Regions from separate parts of the Homo sapiens genome. Here region 2 is reported to be linked to region 1. Evidence: microRNA targets listed by miRTarBase, many of them from high-throughput screens and not tested one by one. Region 1 holds a microRNA gene; the other region holds the end of a gene's coding sequence.

Region 1 (5,176 bases):
TGGTGGTTTGGTTATCCGTGAGGCCTGGGGCGGACACTGCTGTGATCAGTGGGAGGTCCTGGGTAGGAGGCTTGTTCAGGGAGCCATCAGCGAGGCTGGTGTTGACCGTCAGACCCTTTGGGGCAAACCTATGTTTAGCTATCCCATCTCTTCAGCATATCGTTTCCAAATGGAAATGGCTGTTATCTTTTCAGATTAGAAGACTATCCAGCCTTTTCTAAAACTGTGGGCCACACGGGTGGGGCCCAGCCTGGGCCAGTCTCACACCTGTTCCCTCCTGTCCCCAGGCGGAGTCTGAAATGGCCCTGGATGCTGAGTTCCTGGACGTGTACAAGAACTGCAACGGGGTGGTCATGATGTTCGACATTACCAAGCAGTGGTAAGAGGGAGCTGGCGGGGGCAGCTGCCTGTGACTCTCACCCCCCTAGCCCCTTGGGCGCCCTCTTTGTGCAGCAGATAATGGTTAGAGCAGCATCGTTCTGCAGGACCGAGGGACTCTTGCTGGGCAGCTGTGGCAGCTCAGCCACAAGGGGCACTGGCCTGGATGTCGGGCTGGGCAACGACTATGCCTGTGCCTATGGGGCGGGATGGCGTGGGCCGGCTGCAAAAGGCATCTGGGGCAAGGCACGCACCTTCCATAGCCCCACTGTTCTTCCTGAAAACCCATCTGAGACTTGGCGGAAGCAAGTGGCTGCTTGTGCTGGGGGCTCCCCGCGACCTCCGTCTTCATGACCTAGGAGGACCCACAGCCAAGATTCATTCTAGCAAGAAGATGACAGCGAAATCAGCTAAGGGCAGTGGCACACAGGACGATCTCTGGGGGACCAGGCGCAAGCCCCCAGAGTCCACTGTGGAGTCGCATGGGATCCACTCAGCTCCTCAGGAGTGCAGTGTCCCCCAGGACGCACCGGAGCCCCAGCGGGGGGGTGCTGCGGACGCACACTTGGCACAAGGCTCCTAGAAGAACGAGGGCCGCGTGAAGACCAGTGTCCTGGTGCAGGGCCCCTCCTAGCCACAGCCAGTGCCCGGAGCACCAGGAGCAGCATGCCCGACACGTCCAGGCATCTGCTCTTCCCAGCAGTGGGTCTGGCCTGGGGGCCTAGTCAGCAGCTTCTCTTACTTGGGAAGACCCCCACACCAGGGTTAAGCGTACCGCCTGTCACGGGGCCGCACACTCAGCACGCATCAGCAGCCCAGGCCTGAGGGCGGCTTGAAGCACCTGACCAGCCATGCTCTGGGCCTCTGCCAACCTTTGCCAATGCTGGGAACCATGCCTGCCCTCCCAGCCTTCAGCACCACCACCAAGGACTGACCGCAGGCACCCTCAGGAGAGCCCTCGGTGGGGGTGTGGCACACGGATGGCAGGAGAACCACACACGGGGCTGGCGGCCCCACCCCAGGGCACGAGTTCAGCTCGGGCGCACACGCTGGCCTCACCTGGGCGAGCAGTGGTGCTCCTCTCCCTCCGGCCTCTCCTGTCTAGGCAGCAGGCCAGCCTGGTGGGTGGGAAGTGGCTTTTCCCAAGCGAAGTTGAGTGTGGACACAGTGTGGCCTCCACGGCACCTCCCACTGCTGCCACAGGAACGGCCTGGAGGGAGCTGCAGCCGCCTGGGCTGCCGTGCGAGGAGTGGGCGGGAGTGACAGCGAGACTTGAGCCAGCCTGAGAAGACGCGGCAAAGGCGCTTACCTGTGGGCCCGGAGACCCTGTTGGCAGCACCAGCCTGGGCAGGCGATGCCTATGGTAGCAATGCTCTGTCTGGAGCCCCTGGTGCCCAGCAGGAAGGATGGAAAACACTGGCTCAGACAGCGGCTTCAAGCACCACGCAGGCCCTTCACAGCCACGAGAGGCAGGAGACACCAGAAGGCCACCTGCTTAGGAGGCCAGAGGTGCCCCTGGGCCGGCCTTGGTGAGGGGCCCGTTTAAATGACTGCGTGTAAATGAAAGAAAATGAAGTTAGAAACAGGATGTTGCATTTTTTACTCCCTTATGTTGGCTTTCAGTCGTGGGGAAGTTTTGTCACTTGAAGCGCTGGTTATTTCTTCACAAGCCATTTGGAAAACCACGCAGCTGGGAAACTGGCAGTTCCACGCCAGGCAGACTCTGGAGACTTGCCGTCCGTGCCAGGAGATGTCTGCTTAAGACAAGGCTCTCCAAACAGCCCGCTTCACCGGCAGCCGCAGAGGCACCCCAGGGTGTCCTCGGCTGCCCCGGTGGGCAGGGAGCCTGGAGGACCAGCCACAGGGTCGACACCAAGGGGCACAGAGGACAGTGCGGAATGAGGGTGGACACAGATGAAGCCAGAGGTGGTTTTGTAGGGATGCGGACATGGGGTGCTCTGAGGGAAGGCAGGGACAGGCAGGGGCGTTCCAGTGTGGGGTGCGGTCAAGTACCTGCCGTCAGGGAGAGGGACGGGCGGGGGCTGCAGGCTGAGGGGTGCGAAGGCCCTCGAGGCACTTCCCTCTAGCTCTGCATGCACGAGGCATGCTTCTGCTGGGTTGGATGTTGGAAATGAGAAGCAGCCACCATCCTCGGGCCTGGGCGCACAGCACCTTTCCAGGGAGGGACAGGGCGTCGCAGGGCTGAAACTAAGCCAGGTCCTCACCTGTTCTCCGAGGACCTTCAATTACATTCTCCGGGAGCTTCCAAAAGTGCCCACCCACGTGCCAGTGTGCGTGCTGGGAAACTACCGGGACATGGGCGAGCACCGAGTCATCCTGCCGGACGACGTGCGTGACTTCATCGACAACCTGGACAGGTGGGTGCGGTGGCCCTGCTCCCGAGGGACCCTGCCCGGTGCTCCGGTGTGCGGGGGAGGGTGCTGAGGCAGAGGCCCAGGGAGGGGTTAACGTTAGCATGGGGCCCGGCGGATGTGGGTCTCGCCGCTGAGTGGGGCTCACTGAAGCCTGGGTCTCCCCGATGGCAGGGCCGGGAACTGTGTGCTGGGGAACTGTGTGCCAGGGTGAAGTGCTGGCACTGTGGGGTCACCTGCAGAAGGGCACTCGGCTTAGCTGCTTAGCAGGGCTCAGCAGGGTCCTGTGGCCTCAGGAGCCTGCAGGAGGAGGGAGGGCAGTGCGGACCCACAGCTGTGGGCCCAGGGGTGATCCTTGGCACCAGGGCAAGGGTCTTTCTCTTGCATCTTTTTTCCTTTCTGAAAGCAGACCTCCAGGTTCCTCCTACTTCCGCTATGCTGAGTCTTCCATGAAGAACAGCTTCGGCCTAAAGTACCTTCATAAGTTCTTCAATATCCCATTTTTGCAGCTTCAGGTAAGCACTCACCACGTGGGGTGGAGTGGCTGCTGGTCTCTCACCTCCTTCCAGGTGTCTCCTGTGTAGCAACGGGTCTCCCTCCTAACCCCTGAGAAAGCTGTGGACCTGCTCGGAGATTGGCTGCTGGCAAGGGCCCAGCGTTCTACTGCACCTGCCTGCTCTGGGTGGCAGAGGGTACAGGGTCCTGAGGGCTAGACCCAGTCCCAGGAGCCCCTCCACCTCTGCGGGGACCCCTTGCTCAGTTTCCCCCAGTGTTTTTGGTTGTTTTTGTTTGTTGAGATAAGGTCTTGCTGTGTGGCCCAGGCTGGAGTGCAGTGGCGCAATCATGGCTCACTGCGGCCTCAAACTCCGGGGCTCAGGCAATCCTCCCACCTGTCTCCCAAAGTGCTGGGATGCCAGGCGTGAGTCACCGAGGTACTCGCTGTTCACATCTCACATTTCCCTGGTGCTTGTGTCAAAACCAAGGAACCAACTTTGGCCTACGGACTAAACTCACTTTCCTTTGTAGAAACAAGGGCCAGGCCAGCTGTGGCTGCAAAGTAGCCCAGCAAATGATGAGGCTTGAACCTCCTCGCCCTGGGCTGCCCTGATTGGGTCTGGGGGACCTGAACCTCCTCGCCCTGGGCTGCCCTGACTGGGTCTGGGGGACCTGAACCTCCTCGCCCTGGGCTGCCCCAGCTGGGTCTGGGGACCTGAACCTCCTCGCCCTGGGCTGCCCCGCCTGGGTCTGGGGACCTGAACCTCCTCGCCCTGGGCTGCCCCGCCTGGGTCTGGGGACCTGAACCTCCTCGCCCTGGGCTGCCCCACCTGGGTCTGGGGACCTGAACCTCCTCGCCCTGGGCTGCCCCAGCTGGGTCTGGGGGACCTGAACCTCCTCGCCCTGGGCTGCCCCAGCTGGGTCTGGGGGACCTGAACCTCCTCGCCCTGGGCTGCCCCAGCTGGATCTGGGGGACCTGAACCTCCTCGCCCTGGGCTGCCCCGCCTGGGTCTGGGGGACCTGAACCTCCTTGCCTGGGCTGCCCCGCCTGGGTCTGGGGGACCTGAACCTCCTCGCCCTGGGCTGCCCCAGCTGGGTCTGGGGGACCTGTACCTCCTCGCCCTGGGCTGCCCCGCCTGGGTCTGGGGGACCTGAACCTCCTCGCCCTGGGCTGCCCCGACTGGGTCTGGGGGACCTGAATCTCCTCACCCTGGGCTGCCCCAGCTGGGTCTGGGGACCTGAACCTCCTCGCCCTGGGCTGCCCCAGCTGGGTCTGGGGGACCTGAACCTCCTCGCCCTGGGCTGCCCCGACTGGGTCTGGGGGACCTGGGGCCCAGCTGCAGCTGCAGCAGCCTTGGTCTTTCTCCAGAAGGATGTCAGGCTTGCCCAGGAAAGGGGCTGTGCTGTCGTCCTGGTGTCAGAAGAAGTGAGGATGCCTGCAGGCTGGGACTGCTGCTGGGGACGTTTGGGTTGGAAGGAAGGCGGCAGTCAGACTTGTCCTGTGCCGGCACTGCTGGGGAGGCCCCTCCTTCCTGCAGAGCCGTCCCCTCATCACTGGGTTGATTACTCCTTAGAGAGCTCCCCACTGCTCAGCTGCTCCATTCCCTAATGGTTTGCCCTCCAAACCCTTCCAAAGCCTCCCAGGGAGAGAACGGGACCCTGGACAGAGTCTTGAGCTGGAAGCGTAGGGCTGAGCTGTGTGTGACTATCCTTTTGCTATGGATGTGTTCAAGCAGATCTGATGTCCTCGCCTGTCTCAGCAGCGGGACCCCTGTTTCCTCTTTGTCTTGCCCCTGGATTGCCTGGAAGCAAATTTCAGGCCTTCTTTATGTCACCTAAAAATATTTCAAACACATCTCTAAAAAAATCAGTTGTTTTTTTAACCTGACCGTAGTACCTAATGTAATACCGCATGTTAAACTCACAGAAGG
Region 2 (5,000 bases), not on the chromosome of region 1:
AACCCCGGCAGGCATTCTACAAAACAGTTATTAGCAAATTGTATCAAAAAGTATCAAAACATTTCAAAAAACTCTAAAAACTGCCAGGCTTGGCAGATGCGCAGGACAGGGTCTCCAAGTGCCCGTGGCGCTGCCCTATACTCCAGGCATTTATCCTAGAGGCCAGGATGCCACCCCCTCCCCTCCCCTCCTGGGCACTCAGAATCCACGGAGACACCAGGAGGTCTAAACCTCATCTGCAGCTGCCCCTCCAGGTTTGGGACCAGTGGACGGGGTTCCAACCACGGGCTCTGACAGCCACAAGGCCCATGAGATGCTGCTGCACCATGGAGGACCAGGGTGAAGGATGAAGGTCAGTGACTCTACAGGGGGTGGTGGGGGGTGTGGCAGGGGTCCCCTCACTTCCCACATTGCTGCAAGTCACTGAACGATCACTTGGCTTAGGGGCCGAGGTACACTGAACCACAGGTGAACACAACTGAGCTCACAAAGTAGGCCCCTGGACCTCAGAGGATGGACCCCACTTCCCCTCAGCATCTGGATGCCCACCTCAAAGGTGAACACCCCTTAGGGTGAGTTTCTGGGTCTCCATGAAGTCACCTTATCATGAGTGAGGGCACTCAATATAAATACACACGTGTGGTCCTGCTCAGAGCCAGGTCTGAAGTCCCACTTGATAGCCTCAATAAAATGGCAGAACAATAAAAATACCAATTGCGTGCTAACCACAGTTGATAAAATAATCTCTGTGCATTTAAAACAGCAGGAAGTTTGCTATAAGTAACAAGGGTTCATCAGCTTTCTACTCCCTCCCTTCTATTATTATAATACATCTATGTCTTAAGCAAACAGCTTTCCAACTTGGGTGAGGACCAAACCCCAAACTTACAACTAATATGAAGTTACAACTCTAATTCTTTAGAAATGAGAGAAGTCCAAACCTCAATAGAAGCCTGCCATGCTTATTTTGAAATGTTAAAAAAAAAAAAAGATCCAGGTGTCTTCAAAATTCAAGCAGAATAGCTTGAAACACTGAAAGTTTAACATGATGACATGTGTGGCTGTTTCCCTCTCAAAATGGCAGCCTGCAAGCACCTGTGCCTTCATCACTCTAGTTTAAAACCCCACATTCGTGACTGTGCGGTTCAAATGGCCACTGCATAAGCACAGCCCAAACTCTGCCCATCTGAGTTAAAAAACATTTTATTCTTTTGAGACAGGGTCTCACTCCGTCACCCAGGTTAGAGTGCAGTGGTGTGGTCATAGCTCACTGCAGCCTCAACCTCCCAGGCTCAGGTGATTCTCCCACCTCAGCCTCCTAAGCAGCTGGGACTACTGCATGCCCCACCATCCCTGGCTAATCTTTTGTAATTTTTTTGTAGAGATGGGGTTTTGCCATGTTGCCCAGGCATGGTCTCTTCCATTTTCAGTTCCATTTTCATGCACAGTAGGGTGAATTTTCAACTTAAAAAGACAAGTAACAAAAACCTGGCCCGGGCACCACCACTGGGTGCCCTTGTGCCCATCCACTGACCCCAACAAGCTCAAAAACCTTTCTTGTCACAGTGTAGCCACCATCAAATATTAGAAGTTGACCCACAAGATGAAACTTGTTTATCCTCCCTTTAAAAGGGTGGTCCCAACCTTAGTAATATTAGGGTCAAAGCCATGTCAATTACAAACCACCTTCATAGTATCAGGAGAGACACCACAAAATATGAAGCGCAGGACGTCGTATGTAACTCATGAGGCACAAGAAAATCAGAATAGAGGCCAGAAGCTCACACATTTCCAGGGACAAGTCCCAGAAGCAAAACATAAAAGAGCTGGCTTAGGCTGAAAACCAATGGCTCTCCTCTCTCCAAGGTCAAAGCTATCCCACTCCCCAAATCACTCACAGAGTCTTTCTATGTGCTCTCCCCAACTTGCCCCGAGATTCAGGCCAAACAACTGCCCGTTTGTTCATGACCCAGGCTGAGATGGGGAGAACAGCCCACGTACACCCTACCCTGCCTTCTGAGGGGTCTACAAGCAATAAAACCTTTCCCGAATAGGAAGGGGGTAAGCTATCCCAAAGTTGGCAGAAGTTCTGCAAAACATGTTTTGTGGGGGTCTGGGACTAGGTATGAGACAAACGACTTTTAGGCTCAAAGAAGTTTGGAAATGCTGGGTTGAGACTTCTCGGAACCTTTCATACACCGGAATGCTGCAGAGCTCCAAGCAGAGTTTCCAGCCTTTTGGTCTGTTTGTTTGTATGCCTCGCAGAACCTCTCAACAGTTTGTAAGCCTCCAGGGACTTCACATGCAAATAACTAGCTAGCTGAACATGCAGACTGCCCTCCTCACTAACCACAGAGGGCAGTAAGTTGGCTATTGAAGCTTTCAGTCCCCAAAATGCTCTCATCTCTTCTGGATGGCTACATAAACAGACCAGTGAGAACCACAGTAAACCCTGAAGGGAAGGGAAAGGAGGGGCAGCAAAGAAGCAGAAGAAATGGAAATTAAAGTTAACTAAGATTTTTTTCCTAGTCTAATATCAATCTTAACACATTGATCCTCATCCACTCGAGCAGCTGAGAGCCCTCTTAAAGGGCAAGTGACATCGAGACCTGCTCTCGGAACTGTCTGCAGGAAGACTGGTGTTAGACTAGGATTGAAGATGAAGCACATCTTGAAGTTTACTGATCTCTGCCATCGGATGCTGGGTGAGGTACAGCTCATTCATGCCTTCCTTGGCTCATGCTTAAAACCCATCACACTCCTATCCTCCCATAGTTCTGCACGTTTCTCATCCACTCGGGCAGCTAAGAGCCCTCTTAAAGGGCAAGCGACCCTGACACCTGCTTTAGGAACTGTTTGCAGGAGTCAGTGCAGGCCAGCTCCACATCCTGAAGGGGATGCCATCCGGGTACGAACAGCTCAGAGGCTGAATGGCCCTATCACCCGGGAGGAGCCTGGAGGGTATTCCATCTAATCCTGTGGCTAAGCGGGGTGGATGAGGGAACACACGGACTTGTTCGAGAATTTGCCCAGCAGCACGAAACTACTTAGAAGCAGAAAACTGGGGCAGGACCTGGCGTGGGAGTTAGGGAGCCCTCCACTGCCTTCTCAGGGATCCACATGTGCTCCTCTGTGCAGGAACTTTCAACAGCGCCTCAAGATAGAGTCACAGAGAACGATGGCAAATTCCATAGCACTCACTTTTTCTTTCCTGAGAAATAAACAGATTTGGGAGCTCAGTACATCAGTAATATAAAAGACAGTGGGTTCAGAAAAAAAAAAAAGGAAAAAAATGCACAAATTACAAAAAAATATGTATAAAGAGCTTCATACCTTTTTTCGTTTTTGGTTACCTGTAACGTTTTAGAATTCAAGAAGGTTTCCAATGAGGAAAGACGGAATTATTCAGAAACAGCGTTCACCTGATACGGAGAACAGCTCCCCAGCGGGAAGTCATCATGTCTCATCTGACAGTCTAGCGAGCTGCGTGGCCCCTGGTCACTCACTCACTCACCCTCATGGGTGGTCTCTGTGCACTCATTTATAAAACAAACACACTGGACCTTGCCAGTGATTCCCAGATGTGACTAATACCCAGAATTCCAAGAACTAGTTAAAATACAGCTTCTGGGCACCACCTCCTCCCCGTTCCTGGTGGTTTTGGATTCCATAATTCTGAGCGGGGCTCACGCATCTGTATTCTTAAAAGTTCAGCCAGGTTTGGGGAGGCTTGGACTAGGTGGCCTAAGAGAACCCTTTGAGGCCCAAGCTTCACTACAGAAATTTCTGTGTTACCCACGTGCCAGCTACTCTCAGGGGGACAGTCAGCAAGGACCCATGAGGAATCATAACACGGGGCAAAGACCTGTGAAGATACAAGGGGTTGCTCACTGCCTGGGCCCAGGGTTAGTTATTCAAGCAAGATATGTAAAGTTACAGATAGTATTTAATTGGTTACTGTGATATCATAGAAATACCAAGAATCATAAAAGTAAAAAAAGCTGCTAAGTTGTACATAATGTTTCCGGAATACTAAGAAGTTGCTGCTGGTCTACAGAGCCCTGGGAGGTGACGGTGAGGATGGTCCCAAGAGGCGCAGCTAGGGTCACTGGCCCCGGTCCTGGTGCCTCTTGCCTTTGCCTTTCTTCTTCTTGTCCTCTGGCCGTGGCTCCAGGGCGCAGACACAGGCGGACCCGCCAGCGATGGCCTTGGGCAGGTCGACGCCCCTGCTCCACTTGTCGGCCTCGCGGTCGTACACCTGCACGGTCTTGGAGAAGGCAGTGTTCTCCCAGCTGTAGCCGCCCAGGATGTAGATGCGGCCCTCCCACACTGCCACGCCCGACTCGCTGTTGGCGTGCAGCAGCGGCGCCACGCGGGTCCACTGGTTGCACTGCGGGCTGTAGGCCTCCACGCCCAGCACGTCGAAGCGCTCCATGGACTCGATGTTGTCATCGCTGCCCCCGATGGAGTAGATGCTGTCACCCAGGCTGCACATGCTGTGCCAGCCGCGCGCCGTGGTCATGGGCCGCCGCTCCTCCCACACGTCTGTCCGGTGGTCGTAGCATAGCAGGTTCTTGCGGTAGGGGCCAATTTGGTAGTCGTGGCCCCCCGAGATGTACACGAAGTCTTTGTAGATGGTGCCCGCGTGGCCGTACGTGAACCTGCAGGGTCGACGGGCAGAGACAGAGGGAGAGCTCAGGGCTGTGCCAGGCTTACCCCCTCCGAGCCGGGGAACAGCCTGCCGTCTTAGAGGGCCATGAGGATTTAAGAATATAGGGAGTGGGCACCCCATGAACACTCTATAGACAGTAGCCGTCATTAGCAAAGAAATGGCAGGGCAGGGCGGGGAAGTGGACAGCTTTGCAGTCAGGCCGCCTGGGCCAGAACCCAGCTTCACTCTCTCTGAGTCTCCCTTGCCCCATCTGGGAAATGGGAATAATCACAGGACCATCACCCTTTTCACAATGGCTGGAAACGACTAGAACAATGAGCTAGCAGGC

What was found. Region 1 holds the annotated microRNA hsa-miR-4292 (CCCCUGGGCCGGCCUUGG, at 1,891-1,908, shown strand). A microRNA usually pairs through its seed, bases 2 to 8, with sites in the 3' UTR of a target mRNA and lowers its output. Matches are read on the target gene's strand: a 7mer-m8 pairs with bases 2 to 8, a 7mer-A1 pairs with bases 2 to 7 and ends in A, and an 8mer does both.
Region 2: miRTarBase lists KLHL36 as a target of hsa-miR-4292. Seed matches in the 3' UTR shown: 7mer-m8 at 4,060-4,066 and 7mer-A1 at 1,351-1,357.

The regions. Positions count from the first base shown.
Region 1 is chr9:136,829,106-136,834,281 of GRCh38, forward strand. It overlaps MIR4292 (microRNA 4292), which reads left to right and starts at 1,852; the gene lies at 1,852-1,918. RABL6 (RAB, member RAS oncogene family like 6) reads left to right here. Exons shown (of 15, transcript NM_024718.5): 5 at 288-379; 6 at 2,616-2,756; 7 at 3,160-3,265.
Region 2 is chr16:84,661,239-84,666,238 of GRCh38, reverse strand. KLHL36 (kelch like family member 36) reads right to left here. Exons shown (of 5, transcript NM_024731.4): 5 at 1-4,661. The coding sequence ends at 4,106. Among named protein-coding and RNA genes, the nearest start is that of KLHL36, 15 kb to the right of the region's middle. RefSeq lists a silencer at 2,275-2,324 and an enhancer at 2,415-2,634.